Regions from separate parts of the Homo sapiens genome. Here region 2 is linked to region 1. Evidence: fine-mapped expression QTL. A gene starts in region 1. The other region holds a variant in brackets. All regions are shown on one strand. Distances are from middle to middle.

Region 1 (5,255 bases):
GACGCAGGAGCAAGGCTGCGTGGCAGGAGGCAGAGTTTGGACACGTATCCCGGTGGGTGCGTGCCGTGTTTGCGTTTTCTGGGGATGGTGGCTGAATGTATCTGTGTGTGCGCGCAGGAAGGAAGGTGGGGTTGGGGTTTGTAGCCAAGAACCGGGGACAGGAAGAACTGGTTCAGGGAAGGTCCGAAAAGGGATGCCGGGGTCGAAGGCGCCAGGGCCAGGGGATGCCGGCATCCTGATCAGGGTGTCAAGCCCTGAGTAGAAGAAGCGAAGCCGCAGCAACAGCGGGGAAGGCGAGCCCGCCGCCCGGCCTTGGTGCTGACAGCCGGCTCGCCCGCAAGCCGCGCGGCAACTCCGGCTCATGCATCGCTTGGCTTCCACTCCGGAGGCCGAGCCAGGACGAGGTTTCGGTGCAAGTCGCTGCACCAGTCCTAGACTGGGTCTGTCCGGGTCTCCCGAGCCGACCGGGTGCTCTCAAGGGTTCCTAATCATTCCCACCTCTAGCAGGGTGTGGGAAAGTGGGTGCCTCCTCCTGACATCCCGGCTTCCCACCAGACCCTACGACCGGCCCCTGTGTTCCGAAGCAGCTAGCTCGGTCTCCACGCGCCCTGGAGAGGGCGGGGACGCGGGCATCCACTCCAGAGTCCGAGTCGAGGTCTCCACCAAACCCCGGCAGCGCGCACTTTGCGCCTCTTGCAAAGTTTCCGCGCGAGGTTAAGCCAAGGTGGAGCGGGACGCGGGCTCTTACCGTAGACTCCTTGTCCCCGGCAGTGGAAGGGGATCAGCGCCAGAAGTAGAAGGCAGGTCACCTCCATCTTCACGGCCGGTGCTTCATCCCCGCGAGGCGGCGCAGCCCGAGAGGCGGCGGGGGGCGCATTCGCCGGGGCCCCGCGACGCCCCTATGTCCCCCCCTTTCCCTGAGAGGTGAGAGAGAGAGCGGCGACGAAGACCAGGAGACTGAAGAGGCGGAGGTGGCGGCGACCCGTGTTTCTCCTCCGGCGGGGCCGCTGCCCGCGTGGGGACGCAGGGGGCGCTGGCCCAGCCCCGGGTGCCTCGGCGCGCCCGGCACAGCAGCCAGCGCCCCGACCCGAGGAGCCCGGCCGCCGAGCCGCCCCGGGTACCCAGGGCCGTCCGCGCGGGATGCTAGGCGCCGGGGACCTCTCGGCGGCGGAGGCGGCGCTTCGATCCAACAGGCCACGGACGACTGACAAACTTGTCGTTTCCCCGCACTGGGGCCGCCCCTCAGCGGAGCGGAGTCGGGGAGGCCGGGGCTCCGCTCGAGTTAATCAATCTGCTGTTTCCAGTCCTGCGGCCGCTGCCGTGGGCTCAGCGGCCCGACTCCAGGGGGCCGGGCTGAAAGCACTCGCGGCGGCGAAGCAGCCCCGGGCCCGGCCCTCCTGATCCGGGGAGCAGCGCGGGCTGGGTTCGGCCGAGGGACGAGCGCCGCGGGTCCCCGGGTCCGTGAAGTTAGCCGAGCCGCCGATAAACCCGGGGGAAGAATAGCAGCCCGGCGCCCCGCGGGAATCTGGAGAGCAATTCCAGGCAAGAAGGGCCCCAGAAAACGGGGAAAGGAGGAAAGTTTGAGTCTTTTGAAAAATATTCGCGCTCTCGCCCAGGCCGGGGCTGCGGCGCGGGCGCCGCTCGCCGCCTCCGCTCGCCGCGCTCCTCTCCCGCCGTCTGGCCGCGGCCGTAGCCCTCCCGGGCTCCGAGCTCTCGGGAGAGCGGGGCTACGCCGCGCCCCAAGTTGGTCGTCCCCGCCCCCGCCCGGCGGCCTTGGCCTGCGGGGGCCCAGAGCGGGCGGGGCCGGGCCGGGCTCCGGGGCGCGGCGGCCGCTCGGCTCCGGGCCGCGGGAGCGCTCCGCTCGCTCAGCAACTTGGGCTTTGCTGTGCTGCTTTTTCGCCCCTCCGAGCTTTTCATTCCGCGCTCCTCCCGCCTCCCTCCCTCTCTTCCTCCTCCCTCCTCCTCGCGTCTCCTCGTTCGGTCTCTCGCTCTCCCACCCGTTGTCGCTCGCTCTCCTGTTTGATTCCCCTCCAGTTAAAAAAAGGAGCCAATTAAAGGCAGCCCAGCTCGCCTGGCCCAGCCTCTGTCCAATTTCCTCGCCTCCCCCAGGACCAATTAGAGAAAACAAAACAGGGCTGGGGGAAGCTGACTGCCTGCCTTTCTCTTTCTCTTTCTCTTTCTCTTTCTCTCTCTCTCTCTCTCTCTCTCTCTCTCTCTCTCTCTCTCTCTCTCTCTTTCTCTCTCTCTCCTCTCTCTCTCTTCTCTCTCTCCTCTCTCTCTCCCTCTCGCTCTCTCTCCCTTCCTCTCCTCTCCTCTCTTTCCCTTTCTCCTCTCCCTCTCTCTCTCTTCCTCTCTCCGCCCCCTAACATTCCCCCCCAACCCCGCCCAGCAGGAAAATGTCAGAAAGCAGAAATGGATCCATCTATCCCGAGGACAGTGGCGGAGGGACCTGGGTTTCGGCGGGGGCTCTGCAGCCGCGCGCTCGCACACTCGCTGTTCTCCAGCCTTGCACACCCAGACTAGCTGGCCGAGCCGGGTGCACCGTTGCCAGCAGCCCGCGGGGCAAACACGGCCGCTCGCTTCGGAGACCCATGCCCGCAGGGCACTGCACACTTCGTAAATGTTTTGCACTTTGGGGAGGCGGGACTGAAGCGGGGGTCCTAGGGAAAGGCCGGGCGCCTGCGGTTCCTGGGGTCCTGCAGCCGCGCGAGACGGGCCGCGGCTGTGGGTCTGCAAGGCTGTCTGCCCGGCTCGAGAGGCCCCCGCCCCTTTCCAGGCGTCTGGTGCTGGGGCCGGGCCGGAGCAGCTGGCGGAGAGGTCGCGCTGAGAGCTCCTGCCCTTGCCGCGGCCCACAGGTTGCCAACAGGTTTGCTCGCACGACCCCTCCGCCAGAGCTTCCCTAAGTCACCCCACATTTTCCTCGGCTAGCCACTCTTCCCATCTTGCCTCCCCTCGGGACCTCAGGCGCCCCCAAGCGCCCCGGGGGCACACCTCCTTCCGGCTGCCGAACCCGAGCCCCGCTCCAGCGGCGGGAGTCCGGCACTCGGGTCTCAGCCGCCTCGAAGGGGCCCTCGCGGAGCAGGAGTGCGGAGAACGCTCCTCCCAAACGCCCGCGGGGAGGGGCGTAGGCTGGCAAGCGAGGCTGGTGGCCTCCCCCGCGCCTCCGATCCCGCCCCGCGCCCAACCCGGGTCCTGCTAATCTCACCTGCTCCACCTGTCGCCGTTATTTATCTCAGCGTGTGCGCAAGAATTGTTTTAGGTCGGCCCGTGGGAGCGCAGACAATCGCAGCAGCTAACAAGCGGGGAGACTACGAACCCCCCCTCCCTTCGCCCCCTGGAACTGCTCAATATCTTGATGGTGGTTCCACGGCTCTATGCATTTGTCAAAACTCAAAGATCTCCACACTCCAAAAAGGTTAGTCTGCATATAAATTGAAACATAAATTTTTTTAAAATAATAATAATGAACCGTCCCTTCCCCAGGCCCATTTCCTGCTGGGTCTCTCCTCCCTTGACTCTCCAGGGCTTAAGCCCCACCGGAGCGCGCGCTCCTGACTGCTGGAAGAGGAGCGGGAGGTGTCGGGAAGTGCCTGGTGGCATGGGGGGGTTCCACCTTCCTTTCTCAGCCCCCTTTCTGTCCATCTCAGGAAGCCCGAGAACATCCGAAGATTCCTATTCTCTAGCCCACCTCCACTCGTTTGCGCCTCCCTTGTGCCCTCTTCCGTCTTTTCTCTCCTTTCTACCCCGTGGGTCCAAGGCTGATAGGAAGTCCAGACTCAGTGCGGTGCTCCCAGCAGATGCCAGCTGCAGACATGTTCAGTGAATTCACGAATGATGCCCATCATGGCCAGATATCACAGACCTGGGATACCCTCAGGGTAGCCATCCTTTCACTCCCCAGCCCCGGACTGTTACCTCAAAGGCAAAAAATTCATTTTCTGTCCCACAGAGATACACAGCCACCATGCCTCTTCCCGCCTCCCCCATCCAGTCAGAAAAGGAAGTGGTGCCAATTGAGGGAGTGATGAGGGATAGCTTCTTCTATTGTCATCCTCTTCCCATTATTAGAGGGTTCCTGGAAGTCTCTACCCCTTCCAGGAAGCTCTCAGGGAGTGATCACAGCGACTGTGGCTCTTCCTGGCTTTGCCCATTCTGAGCTGAATGTGTACTTCTCCATGTCGTGCGAAACTGCGCTCTGATTTTCCAATTAGCTGTTCCAACACCAAACAGCAGTCAATTGCTCCTCTTTGGCTTTGGGGTGAGTTACTGGGGACAGAGAACTGCACTGACTCAGCTGACATTCTCTTGACTTTGCCCTCTCTAAACTCACACACTAGCCTGGAGGAGAAAGAAGGTTCATGATGGCGGGGTGGGGGGAACAGAGGACCAAGTTAGCCAGGCTGGGATTGAACATTTGCTGTAGCTAATCCACTTGTGAATACTCTGCAGCTAATTGTATGCAGTGTAAATACCTTGACAGCCTGTTTGTGTGTGTCTGTAAATTCAGCTGTCTCCTCCCCCAAGTGTGCCCTGCCTGCTGCCTCAACACAGCCCAGTGTCTGACAATGGGAGGCAACCTCAGAGAAGGGAAAGAGCCCTAGACATCAGTCCTGCGTCCCAGTCCTAACCTCTCTAGGCCTCAGTTTCCCCAGATGTAAACTAGGTAAGATCCCTGTCTTCCTAGAGAGAAGTGGAGTAATAAGAATAACAGCTGACACCACATGCCAGGCACTGTATTAACTATTTAATCTTCATAACCATTATGTAAGACAGGGCTGTTATTCTCATGGAATGACATAGGAAGATGTAGTGACTCACTCAGCTGCTAAGGGGCCAAACTGAGCTTTGACCTCAGTAGCTTGGCTCGGCGACCTTGCCCTCTCCCACTGTTCTATACTGAAGAGGGGCAAGGGCCTAGGTATCAAATAATGTTTCCACAAGAACTGTTTCCTGTTCCCTTTACAGACACAGAGAACAATACTCTGGCCCCCAAATTGCACCAAGGGCAGGGGGGACATGAGAGCTAGACTGCTAGACCTGACATGGGCCATAGGGCACAGGATGAGCCTGAGGTCAGGCTATCTGGAGGCTTGGTGGTCAGCACCCAGCTGCCAAGTCTTCGGTTCCACTCAAGATCATTCTAGGTCACTTCCCACTAGAAAAAAAAATATATATATATATATGTGTGTGTGTATATATATATATATATATATATATATATATATATATATTTGCCTCAAAGAAAACCTAGCACT
Region 2 (5,475 bases), 62 kb before region 1:
GTCTGCAGCCTGGGATGAGAGGCCAGAATTTGGAGCCGAGGGCAGGATCCCAGCAACATCTATAACATCCCCACCGGCACCCTGGACACAGGACTGTTAGCCAAACTCCCTGCAGTTGTTTGGCAGGAGACCTCAGGGGCAGTGACAAGCGGTGTGACACCCCCAGGGCTGTAGTACTTGGCTCTCCCAAGACTGGCTCTACTCAAACTAGCTGTGTGACCTTGGGCCACTCCCCTTCCCCACTCTGGGCTTCAGCTTCTTCATCTGCACGAGGGGATCAAACTTTTGAGGTCCATCCTCACTCTGACAGCCTGAGCCAGGGGCTTTCCCAGAGCACAGGGAAAAGGAGAATGAATGAGAAAGAGGTGTCAGGCCCATCTCTGAGAGGTAGGGGTGGAAGGAGCATTCCAGGAGGAGGGGGCTTGGTCTTCAGGCTTCACTCAGCACCCTAGGAGCCTGTCTGTGCTCCCAAGGGCAGGATAGCCCAGCTGAGACTTCCATAAGCTGCTATACAGCACCTGGCCCCCGGAGTCCTTTTCACCAACCTGAAGGGGACAAGGGATGGAAGGGCCCCAGCACCCTGAGGGCTGACCCTGAACACCCCGTTTTAAGGCCACAAAATGCCTCAGTCACCCTGACCCAGAGGGCGAGGCTGCCACTGGGGAGATGTGCTGGATCCAGCCAGCCTGGTCTCCCCTGGCGGGGGTCACTCATGGGCCACCCATCAACACACAGACACTGACACACCATGGCGCACAAAGACACAGCATGAGCAACACTGATACAGAGATGCTGGCTCACAGGCACACACAGACACAGACACTGACAAGTCACCAGGTGATACACAAAGACACTCATTCCTGCTGAGGAACACACAAACACACAGAGACCAGCACATGCCTAGACATTTACAGTGCCCACTGGCATACACTGACACCCACATCCCCCACCCACCTGCTGGCACACACAGACATCCACATCAGCCTCACCCATTCACACGTGGGGACCTCAGCATTTCAGCAGACACATTTTGTCAATCCCAGGTCAAGCCATCCTCAAGGCAGGGCTGTCTGCACCCACTGAGACCTCCAGCAGCATCCCCCCATCCCCCCTCCACCTTGTGCCCTTCGTCCATAAAGACCAGGAACCTGGGGGCCACATGTATGCAGTTCAGCTCAGCCAACATGTACTGAGCACCTTTACTGTCCACTCTATGGATCCTGAGGGGAACAAGGGAGACAAGTCTCCCCTGTCGGAGCAGCCAGGGTTGCGGGGCAAATGGATTGGAAGGTCCTCTGAGGGAAGCAGGCACAGGGTGCCTTGGGAACCCCAAAGAGGGAGCACTTGGGGCTATTCATCTCTGGTGCTCCAATGCCTACCCCAGCGAGGGCACAGAGGAAGCACCCAGGTGGTGCCAGGCCAGTGGTTCCTGCTGTCAGGAGAACCCAAGGAGCTTTTCAACATTTCTTGATGTCCGACTGCGCTCCAGTCCAATTAACTCAGAACCTCTGAGGTGGGAACCAAGCAGCAATACTTTTTAAAGGACTCTGGTGGTTCTATTCTGCAGGCAAGGCCAGGAACCACTGATTACAGAATCCATTCCACCGGGCAATGGAGTGGTTTCCACACCAGGCTCACTTGTGCTGGGCACGAGCGGGAGGTGGCGAAGGTGGAGGGGGGACTTGGAAGGCTCAGAGGAGGAGCTCACAGTCTAGTTGGGGCAATGGACTCTGCACAGATGGGACAGTTAAGGAACAATACCCGACAGACGCGATGGAAGTGTATGCTGAGAACCTGGAGCGACTCATTTCAGACAGAGGCCTTGACTGGGTCAGGAAGGCAGCCGTGCTGATTGGGCATCAGAAGGCCCCGCTGCATCCTGGCCCGGCCACCCACCAGCTGTTGGTGATAATGATCACACAGGCCTGGCAGGGGGAGATGGGCAGCCTTTGCCTCGGTTCCCCGCCTGCCTCCTGGCACTGCAGTGCTGCCCGAGTTCCAGGCCTCTTCTCTGCAGCTGTCCCCACCAAATGCTCCAGAAGGAGCCCTGTGATGCTCCTCACCAAAGGTGCTTGCATTCAATAGGGTCATCTGTAAGCTCTCCGTCATCCATAGGGGATGAAAGGTGGAATTTCAGGCCATCGCAGGCAGCTTGAGACTACAGAACAGGGCTGGACAGAGTCTATTCAGCCAGCACCCTACAAGCGAACACATCACTCAGGAAGGTGGACACACACGCTGACGTACACGGACATTCATAGAAACGAATGGGTCTCAATCCAGTCTCACAGGCAGATATGTGAGATTGCACACACAGACCTGTGTTTGCACACACTCCTGCCCAACAATGTACCCACGGTGGTACCTAGACACAGACGGGCACAAACACATACACACATATGCACGCATGCCTAAAGAGTCATTCTAGAAGGGGCTGGGCCTTCTCTCTCCCATGGATGGCTAGGTGGGGGCTCAGGTGATGTCAAGGAGGAAAGATCTAGATCCCATCATGTCAATCTCAGGTGCCTAACCCAGGACCCAAGGACAGGGATCCCTTTCACAGCTCCCAGAGAGTGAGGGGACTGGCACCTGCTCCCTCCACCAATCCCAGCTCTATAAGCCCCTCCTCCTTCACTGCCCCTGGGTGGAGAAGGGAACTTTCAACTAGACAGTGCTTTTTGGCATTTTGCCCTGTACACACCCTCCTATCCAGGGCACCCTTTCATGCCAAGTAGATAAGAAATGAAGGCCCCTCTCCACTTCCAAATTCATTGTCTGATATGGGGGCACCAAATCACAGAAGCGGGACGTCTCTTCTGCCTTTCTCCAAGTCAAGCCTCACCCCAGAAAATGGGCTGGCCACCGCTCCCCCAGCTCCTCTGAGACCCAGCTGGGGGCTGAGGCTAGGAGAGAACCGTGTTCTCAGGAGTCCCACTGCTTGTAGGGTGGAGTGGGGAAGTTATCAGTCTTCAGACTGCCCAGGCCCAAGACCCTGTGCTGGGTCCCTTCAAAGGGTGCACACTGAGGAGGGAAATATGGTGTCCCAGAAATAGGTCAAGGAATCTGGGGTGACCTATGGTCTCCACCATCCAGTGCTCACTCTGGACAGAATCGTGTGCAGCAGGTGCCCTACCTTCCTTGTCTCCTGGACGTGGGACAGTCACAGAGCTCGCAAAGTCCCACCTGTTCGTCCTCTGATCCCTGCCTCTCCCATCTCAGGAGTCCCAGAGTCTGACCAAGG[G/A]AGGGGCTCCATGTCTGCCCCACTTCTGGCTCCCTTCTGGCAAAGCCACCAGGCTGGAGTTCGGCCTTGACTTAGGGGACAGGGTAAAGTCAGAAGCACACCACGAGTGCAGCAAGGACAAGGCCTATGTTGCGCCGAGGTCCCTGGGTTGGCGGATGCCATTCAGGCAAGTCCCCTGTCTTTGCAGTAAAGAAGGTGCTGGCAGGTCAGATAGAAACTTGTGCTTTAATATATCTCTGTGTGTGTGAGCATGAGTGTGTGCGTGTGTGCAAGTGGAACAGCTGTCTCCAGGGCCTCAGTGCCTGGCCTCTGTCCTTGTTCTCTGCTCATCCTTGCAGCCAATGCAGGCCCCCTCCCTGGCGGGCCGGCCCTGCCCCTGGGCACCCCAGCTGGCGGGGGTCAGTCTTTGGTACAATGTGGACACTTTGGTGTGCCGGGGGCAAGGTTGGGGGGGTGGCCACACAGCTCTCATCATCTCTGCAACGCCAAGAGGAAGATGGCCATGGGCCCCCACAGCTGTGGGCTGGACTGGCAGGGGGCTCCACTGCCCGGCATCACCACCACTGCAACAGGGGAGAAAGAGGAGACAGGCCAGGGCTCTGGTCAGCTCTGGCAGGGGCAGGAAGTGGCAGGCAGGTCGGCACTGTTACTCTGCCCACCTCTTTGGAGGGCCTGAGGGTGGGCACTGGCCTCAGTGCACACAGACAAACTCACCGCACAGACATGAGGTGGCGTGGGGTGGGGTGGGGGTTAGCTCAGCCTGCCAGGGTTCACATTCACTAAGACTTGGAACAATTTACTTGACCTCAGTGGGCCTCAGTTTCCTCATCTGTAAAATGGGTCCAATGGTGTGTACTACCCCAAAGGACTGTTGTGAGGATTAACTGTTGTGAGGTAAGTGAAACATGCATATACAAGTTTGTGTGCCTTGCCTGGTACAGAGTAATTGCTCAGTAAGTAGGAGCTGTTAGTATTGGAAACCTCTGGCCCTGGAAGGCACACGTTCACCTCTGGAGCCAGAGGTACGCACAGATGTATTCAGACACAGGCACAGGAGGCGCTCTGATACCGTGAACAGGTCAGTATGCTCATCACGAGGGTGGGGGCCAGGCTTCTCATTGTTTACACAAGTACACAGCCTGAGTGAGTGTGGGGCACACCTTCACACAGTCAGAGCCACATGATTCCCATCACTCAGACATTCTGAACCCCTATTCAGACCCAAACACCCTCCCTCAACAGACAGGAACCCCCGCCACGCACAGCTCCCTCCAGATTCAGCTCCCCCACCTCCTTCCCGTCTTGCACCTTTATTGGGATCCGTCTGCTTCCGGGGACACTCCCCCTTCTTCAGTGTGACGTCATCTATGGCAATATCCCCCAGGTAGCCCGGGCCTCGAACCCCCTCAAAAATAATCTGGGGTGGGGTCAGAAAGCAAGGAGCAAGGGTTGAGGAGGTTCTGCTGGGTACCAGAGTGCTCCCTCGACCCCACCTTTCCCCTTAATCTACCTGGAAGTTCCCCCTAACCTGACTCTTTCCATCCTTAGCCCCCAGGAAGAAGGACAAGGTTTTCCTAAGTGTTTCCTGGCCACAGCAACCACCGAAGCCGGGGAGGGTCCTCTGGGCCCTACGGACTCACCTGGAAGGGCCCACTGGGGCTGATGGGCACATGGGCCTGCTGCCACACATTGCCCTTATTGCCACTGAGAGACCAGGCGTGCGTGTCCAGAGCCCCTTTGTTCCGGGACCGCACCAGGAGGTTGAGGGAGCCTGCGGTGGGTGTGAAGACAGTGGGCAGTGAGATCTGGCCAGGGCACCCTCACCTTTCCACATTTACCAAGCCCTCTTCTCCCACCATAGCCTGCAGCCCTGTCCCTGTTGACAGGACCTCCTCCCCATGCCCAGCTGGGTGCAATGTCCCATTCCTGCAGGGACACCCTCAGTGTGGGAAAGAGAAGACTTCAGCAGGATTTCATTTCATCAGGATGACTTGCAAATTTTCTTTCATTTCTTTCCTGCCCTGCTAATCAGCTAATCTCCCCAACCCCAAACACACACATGCACACACACCCTACCCTTCCCCTCTAGGCAAGGGAGCTGTCCCAGGGCAGTGGGACCTCTGTCTGGGCACGCAGCAGGGTTTCCAAAGAAAACAGTGTGTCCCTGTTGGCAGTACATGACTTGTGGAGGGAGATGAAGGGCTTTTAAAATGTTTAATACCCAGTTGGCAAGA

What was found. PIP is the estimated chance that this variant, and not a neighbour inherited with it, causes the effect.
Region 2: its variant is fine-mapped to the expression of MDGA1 in nasal epithelium (TOPMed, PIP 0.95).

Annotation. Positions count from the first base shown.
Region 1 is chr6:37,695,997-37,701,251 of GRCh38, forward strand. It overlaps MDGA1 (MAM domain containing glycosylphosphatidylinositol anchor 1), which reads right to left and starts at 1,887. Exons shown (of 17, transcript NM_153487.4): 1 at 749-1,887. The coding sequence starts at 815. RefSeq lists enhancers at 1-510, 511-1,240 and silencers at 783-942, 973-1,262, 1,443-1,502, 1,563-1,692, 1,753-1,822 and 3 more.
Region 2 is chr6:37,633,656-37,639,130 of GRCh38, forward strand. It overlaps MDGA1 (MAM domain containing glycosylphosphatidylinositol anchor 1), which reads right to left. Exons shown (of 17, transcript NM_153487.4): 15 at 4,882-5,012; 16 at 4,550-4,658; 17 at 1-3,804. The coding sequence ends at 3,713. Among named protein-coding and RNA genes, the nearest start is that of MDGA1, 61 kb to the right of the region's middle. The variant G/A (reference allele first, on the strand shown) is at 3,242.